Linked DNA regions of Homo sapiens: region 1 is linked to region 2. The links come from fine-mapping of genetic effects on gene expression. A gene starts in region 2. The other region holds a variant in brackets. All regions are shown on one strand. Distances are from middle to middle.

What was found.
Region 1: its variant is fine-mapped to the expression of NCAPD2 in whole blood (TOPMed, PIP above 0.99).

Annotation. Positions count from the first base shown.
Region 1 is chr12:6,530,324-6,535,839 of GRCh38, forward strand. It overlaps NCAPD2 (non-SMC condensin I complex subunit D2), which reads left to right. Exons shown (of 32, transcript NM_014865.4): 30 at 368-494; 31 at 598-753; 32 at 1,004-1,632. The coding sequence ends at 1,089. It overlaps GAPDH (glyceraldehyde-3-phosphate dehydrogenase), which reads left to right and starts at 4,194. Exons shown (of 9, transcript NM_002046.7): 1 at 4,194-4,246; 2 at 4,487-4,538. The coding sequence starts at 4,510. It overlaps GAPDH-DT (GAPDH divergent transcript), which reads right to left and starts at 4,084. Exons shown (of 2, transcript XR_002957397.2): 1 at 3,141-4,084; 2 at 1,593-2,820. RefSeq lists enhancers at 2,336-2,465, 2,426-3,199, 3,200-3,973, 3,974-4,747 and silencers at 3,376-3,625, 4,346-4,485. The variant C/T (reference allele first, on the strand shown) is at 2,214.
Region 2 is chr12:6,491,515-6,496,514 of GRCh38, forward strand. NCAPD2 (non-SMC condensin I complex subunit D2) reads left to right here and starts at 2,588. Exons shown (of 32, transcript NM_014865.4): 1 at 2,588-2,640; 2 at 3,562-3,711. The coding sequence starts at 3,585. It overlaps MRPL51 (mitochondrial ribosomal protein L51), which reads right to left and starts at 1,748. Exons shown (of 3, transcript NM_016497.4): 1 at 1,544-1,748; 2 at 1,348-1,458; 3 at 372-953. The coding sequence starts at 1,622. The coding sequence ends at 757. RefSeq lists enhancers at 1,966-2,015, 2,183-2,780 and a silencer at 2,216-2,545.

The DNA of each region.
Region 1 (5,516 bases), 39 kb after region 2:
GCACATTTGTTACAGCTGAACCTACACTTACACATCATCTCCTAAAGTCATGGTTTACCTTGGAGTTCACTGCACGTAATGACATGTACCCACCATTGCAGTATCATACAGAAGAGTTTCACTGCCTTACAAATCCCCTGCACTCCACCTATTTATCCCTCTCTCCCCACAACCCCTGATCTTTTTACTGTTGCCATCACTTTGTCTTTTCCAGAATGTATCATTGGAATGATCCGGTATGGAGCCTTCTCACCTTGGCTTCTTAGTAATGTGCGTTTAAGGCCTCCATGTCTTCCATGGCCTTGTTTCTTTTTAATCAGAAGTAACTGTTTTCAGGCCTGCTCTGAATCTCCTTTTCTCCCTCCAGGCTATAATAGATGAATTTGAGCAGAAGCTTCGGGCCTGTCATACCAGAGGTTTGGATGGAATCAAGGAGCTTGAGATTGGCCAAGCAGGTAGCCAGAGAGCGCCATCAGCCAAGAAACCATCCACTGGTACGTAAGGCAGCCTGTGCGGGCGAGACCAGACTGGGCCCTCCCCTCCTGCAGTGATTTGTTTCTTCTTCTTTTTTAAATCACGTTTTCCTGCCTTTTCTAGGTTCTAGGTACCAGCCTCTGGCTTCTACAGCCTCAGACAATGACTTTGTCACACCAGAGCCCCGCCGTACTACCCGTCGGCATCCAAACACCCAGCAGCGAGCTTCCAAAAAGAAACCCAAAGTTGTCTTCTCAAGTGATGAGTCCAGTGAGGAAGGTATGATGCTCCCGCCTGTTCCCGGCCGAGAAGGCACACAGCTAGGGTGCAGAGGGCTGGTTTCCATAGGACCTGCTGCGGGGGCCTGAGTGTAGATGCTCTGCCCCACTGCCGCAGAAGGGCCTCTCCTGTACAGCTTGGATTTTATTTCTTCTGTGCGGTGTGGGATTGTCTCACTTGTTCTCTGATATCTATTTTTTCACCATCTTTGTGACTCAGCTTTTTCTTATTCCTTTAATTCTTTGCATAGATCTTTCAGCAGAGATGACAGAAGACGAGACACCCAAGAAAACAACTCCCATTCTCAGAGCATCGGCTCGCAGGCACAGATCCTAGGAAGTCTGTTCCTGTCCTCCCTGTGCAGGGTATCCTGTAGGGTGACCTGGAATTCGAATTCTGTTTCCCTTGTAAAATATTTGTCTGTCTCTTTTTTTTAAAAAAAAAAAAGGCCGGGCACTGTGGCTCACGCCTGTAATCCCAGCACTTTGCGATACCAAGGCGGGTGGATAACCTGAGGTAGGGAGTTCGAGACCAGCCTGACCAACATGGAGAAACCCCATCTCTACTAAAAATAAAAAATTAGCCGGGCGTATTGGCGTGCGCCTGTAATCCCAGCTACTCAAGAGGCTGAGGCAGGAGAATCGCCTGAACCCAGAGGCGGAGGTTGTAGTGAGCCGAAATCACACCATTGCACTCCAGCTTGGGCAACAATAGCGAACCTCCATCTCAAATTAAAAAAAAAATGCCTACACGCTCTTTAAAATGCAAGGCTTTCTCTTAAATTAGCCTAACTGAACTGCGTTGAGCTGCTTCAACTTTGGAATATATGTTTGCCAATCTCCTTGTTTTCTAATGAATAAATGTTTTTATATACTTTTAGACATTTTTTCCTAAGCTTGTCTTTGTTTCATCTTTCACATTAGCCCAGTTTCATGCAGCAGAGAGAGGGTTATCAGTGCAGAGAGAGATGAGTGAGCCCAGAGTCCTAGGGCCTGTCCCGGGATGGCAGATGAGCTTCCTGCCCCGTCACTGCCACCTTTCCCCTCTCAACCTCTGGACCCTGCACAGTGACCAGACAGCCTCTCTGGGGAGAATTATGCAGTGCCTAGGCTCCAGATCAGTGCTTCTGAACCGGGGGCAATTTTGTCTGCCAGAGGACATCTGACAACACCTGGGGCCTGTTTTGTTGTCATAGCCTATAGGGGAAGAATGCTACCAGCATTTGTGGGAAGAGGCCAGGGATGTGGCTCAACATCCTGCAGTGCACAGGATGGCCCCTCAACAAAGAATCACACGGCCCACAATGTCAATAGCGTCACAGTTGAGAAAACCTGCTCTAGACCAAGGGTTGCTTTCTGCCGTGTGCCTCACCCCACCCCCACTCGTGTTCCCTAATCCCATCTCCAAAGGTTGGCAGCAGACCGGCCCAGGCTCGTGGAAGTTCAGATCATGATCCCCTC[C/T]AGCTCTGCAGGAGACAAGACCTGTCTCCCAGCATTCCTCATTGTTCCCGGGTCTGCAGAGGGCGTGAGCTATGCTGCAGGCGGGCTGCCCCCTGAAGCCTGCGCACCCCTCTCCAGCTCCTCAAGTCTTCTCTGCTGAGTCACCTTCGAACCGGAGGCTGTGAGCTGGCTGTCGTGACCACACTGGTGCCTCTGCTGTCATGACAACAGCACACTACGTCAGTAGTGCTCCCTGGGCACTGAGCTCCCTCTTTGCGGGGAGAAGACAGTAATGAAAAATGACAAGCATGAGGCAGAGGGGAAGATCACGCTTGGGTGGTGCAGGAGCATGGAGGTGCTCTTAATGCTCTCAATGAGAAAGGGTTAACGGTCCTGGTTGCAGGAATAGCTGAGTCAGAGGTGGGGCTTCCTCCACTCCCCCACCCCACCCCTTTCACCATTAGGGACCTTCTTGCCTTGCTCTTGCTACTCTGCTCTGGGTGGTCATTGTGAAAAGCCCGCACCAACCATGCCAGTGGCAGCCAGACGAGGACACAGCCTGGCTCTGGGTCCCAGCAGGAAAGGCAATCCCAGAAAGGCAGGGTCAGGGACTGGAGTCCTGTGGGTGCTTTTTAAGCAAAGATTATCACCAGGCAGGCTAAACTTAGCAACCGGCTTTTAGCTAGAAGGGCAGGGGGCTGGTGTCAGGTTATGCTGGGCCAGCAAAGAGGCCCGGGATCCCCCTCCCATGCACCTGCTGATGGGCCAAGGCCACCCCACCCCACCCCCTTCCTTACAAGTGTTCAGCACCCTCCCATCCCACACTCACAAACCTGGCCCTCTGCCCTCCTACCAGAAGAATGGATCCCCTGTGGGAGGGGGCAGGGGACCTGTTCCCACCGTGTGCCCAAGACCTCTTTTCCCACTTTTTCCCTCTTCTTGACTCACCCTGCCCTCAATATCCCCCGGCGCAGCCAGTGAAAGGGAGTCCCTGGCTCCTGGCTCGCCTGCACGTCCCAGGGCGGGGAGGGACTTCCGCCCTCACGTCCCGCTCTTCGCCCCAGGCTGGATGGAATGAAAGGCACACTGTCTCTCTCCCTAGGCAGCACAGCCCACAGGTTTCCAGGAGTGCCTTTGTGGGAGGCCTCTGGGCCCCCACCAGCCATCCTGTCCTCCGCCTGGGGCCCCAGCCCGGAGAGAGCCGCTGGTGCACACAGGGCCGGGATTGTCTGCCCTAATTATCAGGTCCAGGCTACAGGGCTGCAGGACATCGTGACCTTCCGTGCAGAAACCTCCCCCTCCCCCTCAAGCCGCCTCCCGAGCCTCCTTCCTCTCCAGGCCCCCAGTGCCCAGTGCCCAGTGCCCAGCCCAGGCCTCGGTCCCAGAGATGCCAGGAGCCAGGAGATGGGGAGGGGGAAGTGGGGGCTGGGAAGGAACCACGGGCCCCCGCCCGAGGCCCATGGGCCCCTCCTAGGCCTTTGCCTGAGCAGTCCGGTGTCACTACCGCAGAGCCTCGAGGAGAAGTTCCCCAACTTTCCCGCCTCTCAGCCTTTGAAAGAAAGAAAGGGGAGGGGGCAGGCCGCGTGCAGCCGCGAGCGGTGCTGGGCTCCGGCTCCAATTCCCCATCTCAGTCGTTCCCAAAGTCCTCCTGTTTCATCCAAGCGTGTAAGGGTCCCCGTCCTTGACTCCCTAGTGTCCTGCTGCCCACAGTCCAGTCCTGGGAACCAGCACCGATCACCTCCCATCGGGCCAATCTCAGTCCCTTCCCCCCTACGTCGGGGCCCACACGCTCGGTGCGTGCCCAGTTGAACCAGGCGGCTGCGGAAAAAAAAAAGCGGGGAGAAAGTAGGGCCCGGCTACTAGCGGTTTTACGGGCGCACGTAGCTCAGGCCTCAAGACCTTGGGCTGGGACTGGCTGAGCCTGGCGGGAGGCGGGGTCCGAGTCACCGCCTGCCGCCGCGCCCCCGGTTTCTATAAATTGAGCCCGCAGCCTCCCGCTTCGCTCTCTGCTCCTCCTGTTCGACAGTCAGCCGCATCTTCTTTTGCGTCGCCAGGTGAAGACGGGCGGAGAGAAACCCGGGAGGCTAGGGACGGCCTGAAGGCGGCAGGGGCGGGCGCAGGCCGGATGTGTTCGCGCCGCTGCGGGGTGGGCCCGGGCGGCCTCCGCATTGCAGGGGCGGGCGGAGGACGTGATGCGGCGCGGGCTGGGCATGGAGGCCTGGTGGGGGAGGGGAGGGGAGGCGTGTGTGTCGGCCGGGGCCACTAGGCGCTCACTGTTCTCTCCCTCCGCGCAGCCGAGCCACATCGCTCAGACACCATGGGGAAGGTGAAGGTCGGAGTCAACGGGTGAGTTCGCGGGTGGCTGGGGGGCCCTGGGCTGCGACCGCCCCCGAACCGCGTCTACGAGCCTTGCGGGCTCCGGGTCTTTGCAGTCGTATGGGGGCAGGGTAGCTGTTCCCCGCAAGGAGAGCTCAAGGTCAGCGCTCGGACCTGGCGGAGCCCCGCACCCAGGCTGTGGCGCCCTGTGCAGCTCCGCCCTTGCGGCGCCATCTGCCCGGAGCCTCCTTCCCCTAGTCCCCAGAAACAGGAGGTCCCTACTCCCGCCCGAGATCCCGACCCGGACCCCTAGGTGGGGGACGCTTTCTTTCCTTTCGCGCTCTGCGGGGTCACGTGTCGCAGAGGAGCCCCTCCCCCACGGCCTCCGGCACCGCAGGCCCCGGGATGCTAGTGCGCAGCGGGTGCATCCCTGTCCGGATGCTGCGCCTGCGGTAGAGCGGCCGCCATGTTGCAACCGGGAAGGAAATGAATGGGCAGCCGTTAGGAAAGCCTGCCGGTGACTAACCCTGCGCTCCTGCCTCGATGGGTGGAGTCGCGTGTGGCGGGGAAGTCAGGTGGAGCGAGGCTAGCTGGCCCGATTTCTCCTCCGGGTGATGCTTTTCCTAGATTATTCTCTGGTAAATCAAAGAAGTGGGTTTATGGAGGTCCTCTTGTGTCCCCTCCCCGCAGAGGTGTGGTGGCTGTGGCATGGTGCCAAGCCGGGAGAAGCTGAGTCATGGGTAGTTGGAAAAGGACATTTCCACCGCAAAATGGCCCCTCTGGTGGTGGCCCCTTCCTGCAGCGCCGGCTCACCTCACGGCCCCGCCCTTCCCCTGCCAGCCTAGCGTTGACCCGACCCCAAAGGCCAGGCTGTAAATGTCACCGGGAGGATTGGGTGTCTGGGCGCCTCGGGGAACCTGCCCTTCTCCCCATTCCGTCTTCCGGAAACCAGATCTCCCACCGCACCCTGGTCTGAGGTTAAATATAGCTGCTGACCTTTCTGTAGCT
Region 2 (5,000 bases):
AGTCTCAAATTCCTGTCTCCAAGCAATCCTCCCACCTCAGCCTCCCAAAATGCTGGGATTACATGTGGGCACCATTCTGCCCAGCTGTAATTCTTAAAAATTATTATTAAAAAAGAACAAAACACATAGATGCCCTAGACTCAACTCAGCTCTACTGATCAATCTTTAGGGGTTAGGACTAGGCTTTTGAAATGTTAAAACACCCAGAAAACTGATGACCAGTCAGGCTTAGTATCCGCCATCTCTACCATTCATATGGTACTTAATGTTTCATATTTAAATGGAAAGGACACCTCACACTTTTTTGTTTTTCCTATAGTTCCTACTCAGAGAATATGCCTAATAAATATTTTATGAGAGTAGTACAGAAGTATGACTCCATTTTTCTCTTATATTTCATTTCAGTGTGGAAGGCTCTTTAGAAACACTATTAACATAACAGCATTATGTCAAAAAGCGCCAATAACATTCTCACCAACTTTTCTTTTTAAAGGAATTAGGTATAGCTAGACTGTAAAAGGCAAGTGGTGTGAAGCCCAAACCTAAGATCCTAAGATCTAGGATGAGTCAAGACTTCATAGTCTACATGAGTAGAGGCAGCATCTAGAGGAAAACAAAAGTATGTGGCTATCAAATTCCAAAGAAGCCCCATTTTATTACAGAGAAAATACAAAGCCGTTTCCTCACAGGGAAAAGTACAGTTTCCCTTCTCCAGGGTGACAGATGAGCCTTTTCCGAAGTTCTCAGCTTTCTCTTCTATCGAAACTTCCCATGTCGGTTAAAGTGTTTGTAGAGATAGCGGATGCGTTTATTAAGGTTGTGCAGGTCATCAGCGAACATTCTACTTCCAACCATTTTCCTCTTTCGGATACAACGTTGCAATTCATTCCCTTTCCAACCTCGAAGCCATATGGGCCCCCTGATCAGTTCTTTGGGGTGCTTTTCAAAGTTTCCTGTGTAATGTGAGAGAACACATTAGATCCAAGACAAGAGAACTCATCCTACACCAGCTAAGCTTTCAACCCACGGTTGCATCTTGCTGAGCAGCACCTATAGACAAGGAACATTACAGTACAGAACAATAGCACAGACTCTGGAGCCAGACTGCTTGGGGTTAAAATTCTGATGCTGCCATTTATTAACTTTGGAAAAACTGTTTATTTTTACTTATGAAGTAAAAATTATACGAGGGGACTCAGAACAGTGCCAAACACAATGTAAACAGCTACATAAGTGTTTGCTCTTACTATTGAGCACAGTACCACTCTCTACACAGGAGGAAAAGATAGTCGTTACAGCCTAATTGCCATTCTGAAATTGTGTACCACGTCGAAGGTCAAGTCTTACCCAGGATCCCGATGTTGTCATACACTCCGAACATGGCCCTTTTCTCGTTCCAACGATCAACCACTTTGGGGGGCGGGAGAGTGAGCCTTATACCGATCAATCTAGGCACACCTGGGGATGGGGAAGGGAGGGAATTAATCTGAGCCGCCTATTATACTACGAAGCAGTTATCGGGGTGCCTACATCAGCCACTTACCAAGAGAGAAGCTTCTGCACGCCAGAGGCACCCAGTCCCACAGGCGCCTACCTGCCCCGGATAAGAGGTTCCCTGCCATTTCTCTAGTCTCCCCCCTTCAACAGCACACCAAATAAGCCCAAGAAGATGACAGGAACCGTCCCCGCCAACTTCACACGAGTACTAAGGCGAAGACAGCCATCTTGGGCCTTACCCAGGCAGCTGTGGGCGCACCGCCCACCTACGCCCCATCCGCAACAGCCACGAGCCCCGCCCCCCGGGTTCCGGCAGGAGGGGCCTCTACCACCCTTCCCGCCTCAGTGCTTCCGGTCCGCCTGCCGGAAGTTTTGGAGCGCCGGACAAGCTGAGGTCCGCGACTCGTCGCTAAGATTCCCCAAAACTGAGATTTCAAGAAAATTCACCCTTTCCGCTTTCTTTGGCGTCCTTCAACCGTGAAGGAAATGAAGGTTGAGAACCTGGAACCCGCTTCCAATGACCAAGCCCTTTCTCTGTGCCTCACAACAGTCTTCCGCTGTAGCTGTTTTTATTACCCCTATTTTACTACTGGGGAGGAGATTTGAGGTCCTGAAAGTGAAGTGACTTGCTGGACGTCACTTAGCAGAGGAGATGGCGAAACCTGGATTAGAGGCGATGCCTTCTAACTCCCAGCGTGGACTTGCCTCCTTTCCTGGGGGTGACTGAATGCCCAGCCAGGGACGCGACGTCTCTGGCCAGCAGAAATACGGCCTCCTCCCCGCCGACTGGGCAAAGGGGGACCTTGCGGCCAAGGAGGGATTCGCAGGCGGGCCGGGGGTGGGAGCGGGGGCCGGAGCCGGAGCCTTGGCCCGCCCCCGGGCGGCGCTGTGATTGGCCGGCCGCTCCGGCGGGCGTCGCGATTGGCCGTCCTGCAGCCGTTGAGATTTGAACTCGGTATTTGTGGCTTTGCCCGCGCGTTGCCAGACTCAGAGGCGGCCCTTTGCCTCTGCCTGCCGGGGATTGGCCGGATTCTCCGCCGACTTGAAAACTGCCTTGCTAATTGGTGCGTGTTGTGCACGCGTGTTTTTTCCTTTTCATTTCAGCCTGACTGCCGGAATCAGAGCCGCGGGTGAGATCCCCAGGTAAGATGTGGTGTTGCAGGTCGTAAAAGAGTAGGAAAGTCGAGTACATGGCAGTGTGACCCAGTCTTGGGCAAAATACAATAGGCCTAGTAAGTATATCCCTGGGGCGCGATGTGTGAGAAACTGTAAGTCTGACAGATCCGCAACGGAAGTTGTTAAGCAAATCGCTTAACAGATCCGCAACGGAAGATGTTAAGCAAATCGCTTAACAGATCCGCAACGGAAGATGTTAAGCAAATCGCTTAACTTTCTTACTTCAATTTCCGCTCTGTAAACTCATTTGTATTATTATGCACCTCATGGGATTGAGGTTAGGATACTTAGATCAGATATGATACATGCAAACAGCCTAACAGACTTGGCACAGGATAAATAAATCATCATTGTTAATGCTCTTACCATTCTGGTGCAGGAAGCCCACTAGCCCATGCTGGGGCACTGTTTTGGCCTCAGACGAGATCAGACCATTCTCTCTATACTTAAGGAGCTTTGCACATAAAAATGGAAATAATAGTACTTTGCACATTAATATGCCACTTTATAGTTCTTTAAACACCTTCGTACTGCTTGATTTGTTTGATCATCAGAGCAACTTTGTGAAGTAATCAGAGTTTAGTAACCCTGTTTTTACAGATAAAGCCCAGAGGTTTAAGTGTCAAGACCAAGTGCCAAAGTCACTACTAGAATTAGTTTCTAGTCCAGGGTCAATCTCAGATCCCGTAAGATAATGTTACTAGCTTGCTATAAAACTAAAAACCATTATATATGTTGGGGGTGGGGAACTAACAAAACCAGATGATGTTACTAGCTTGCTATAAAACTAAAAGCCATTATATATGTTGGGGATGGGAAAGTAATAGAACCAGATACGAAGACAGGTCTTGAATATAGACCCTGACTTTTTCACTGTTTGGTTTCTAGCCCTGTGAGCCTGTAGGAGTAGAATGGCTCCCCAAATGTATGAGTTCCATCTGCCATTATCCCCAGAGGAGTTGTTGAAAAGTGGAGGGGTGAATCAGTATGTTGTGCAAGAGGTACTGTCCATCAAACATCTTCCACCACAGCTTAGAGGTAAGAGTCCATAGCTGTCACTGTACCTAGCTCTTTCAAAGGACCATCTCACATGGAATTGCTACATTGTCATTTCTGTTCCACTACACCAGGAAGCATCATAAGAGCAAGAAACATGTTTTTCCTATTTTGCTGTTTTATCCTAAAATTGCATGGGATGCATGACCCAAAGAGTACATTCATTAACTTCCTTTTCTGGATTAGTCAAAAACAGTCTTGGTGTATGTGATTACTCTTTGGGGAAAAGTTATTTTCCATCTTTACCCCTTACTGTGTGTCAAAATTAAGTCCTGGTGGATTTAAGAGTTATAGGAGTGGATCGCTTTTTCAGAATGTCTCGGACTTAACTCGACCTGTTTTTGGTAATACCTTTTTGGAGTCTTTTTGGATGTGCAATTATGGGGACAAAAACCCATAATATATATGTACCACTGCAACACTGAGCAATATATGTACAGTGCAGTCACCTACTGAAACCTGTAAATGATCAAAAGCACCTTTTGCATTACCAGAAAGACTTCATAATGTCCTTGTACTTGTTGGGAGCGGTCTTGTAGCAGTTAGCTTGCTTTGGAGAGGTATAGAGATTAAAGACTGGAGCCAGGCTGCCTGGATTTGAATCCTGGTTCTACCACTCTGACCTTAGACAAGTTACTTAATTGTCTCAGTGCCTTGGTTTCGTCATCTGTAAATATAGAGATAATAACCAATTCCTTTGTTATCACCTACAAGAAGAAGGGTTGGTTAATGCAGCAGCTCGACAATATGGTCCTAGCTTGTCTCCTCTTGGCTTTTCTTTCATGGTTGCTAGATTGCAACTTCTTTTTGTTTTTCTTTTTTTTTTTTTTTTGAGACAGGGTCTCACTCTGTTGCCCAGACTGGAGTGCAGTGATGCGATATCGGCTCACCACAACCTCTGCCTCCCCAGGCTCAAGCGATTCTCCTGCTTCAGCCTCCCAAGTAGCTAGGATTACAGGTGCACGCCACTACCACCTGGCTAATTTTTGTATTTTTAGTAGAGACGGGATTTCACCATGTTGGCCAGGCTGGTCTTGAACTCCTGACCTCACATGATCCACCCACCTTGGCCTCCCAAAGTGTTAGGATTATAGGCGTGAGCCACTGCACCAGTCTAGATGGCAGCTTCTTCCTCTAATGTCCAGAAGTGGAAAAAGGAATTTTCTTTTTGTACTTTTTATTCTTTATTTTATTTTGAAAGACAAGGTAAAGACTCTCTTGCCCAGGCTGGAGTCCAGTGGCATGATCACGGCTCACTGCAGCCTCAACTT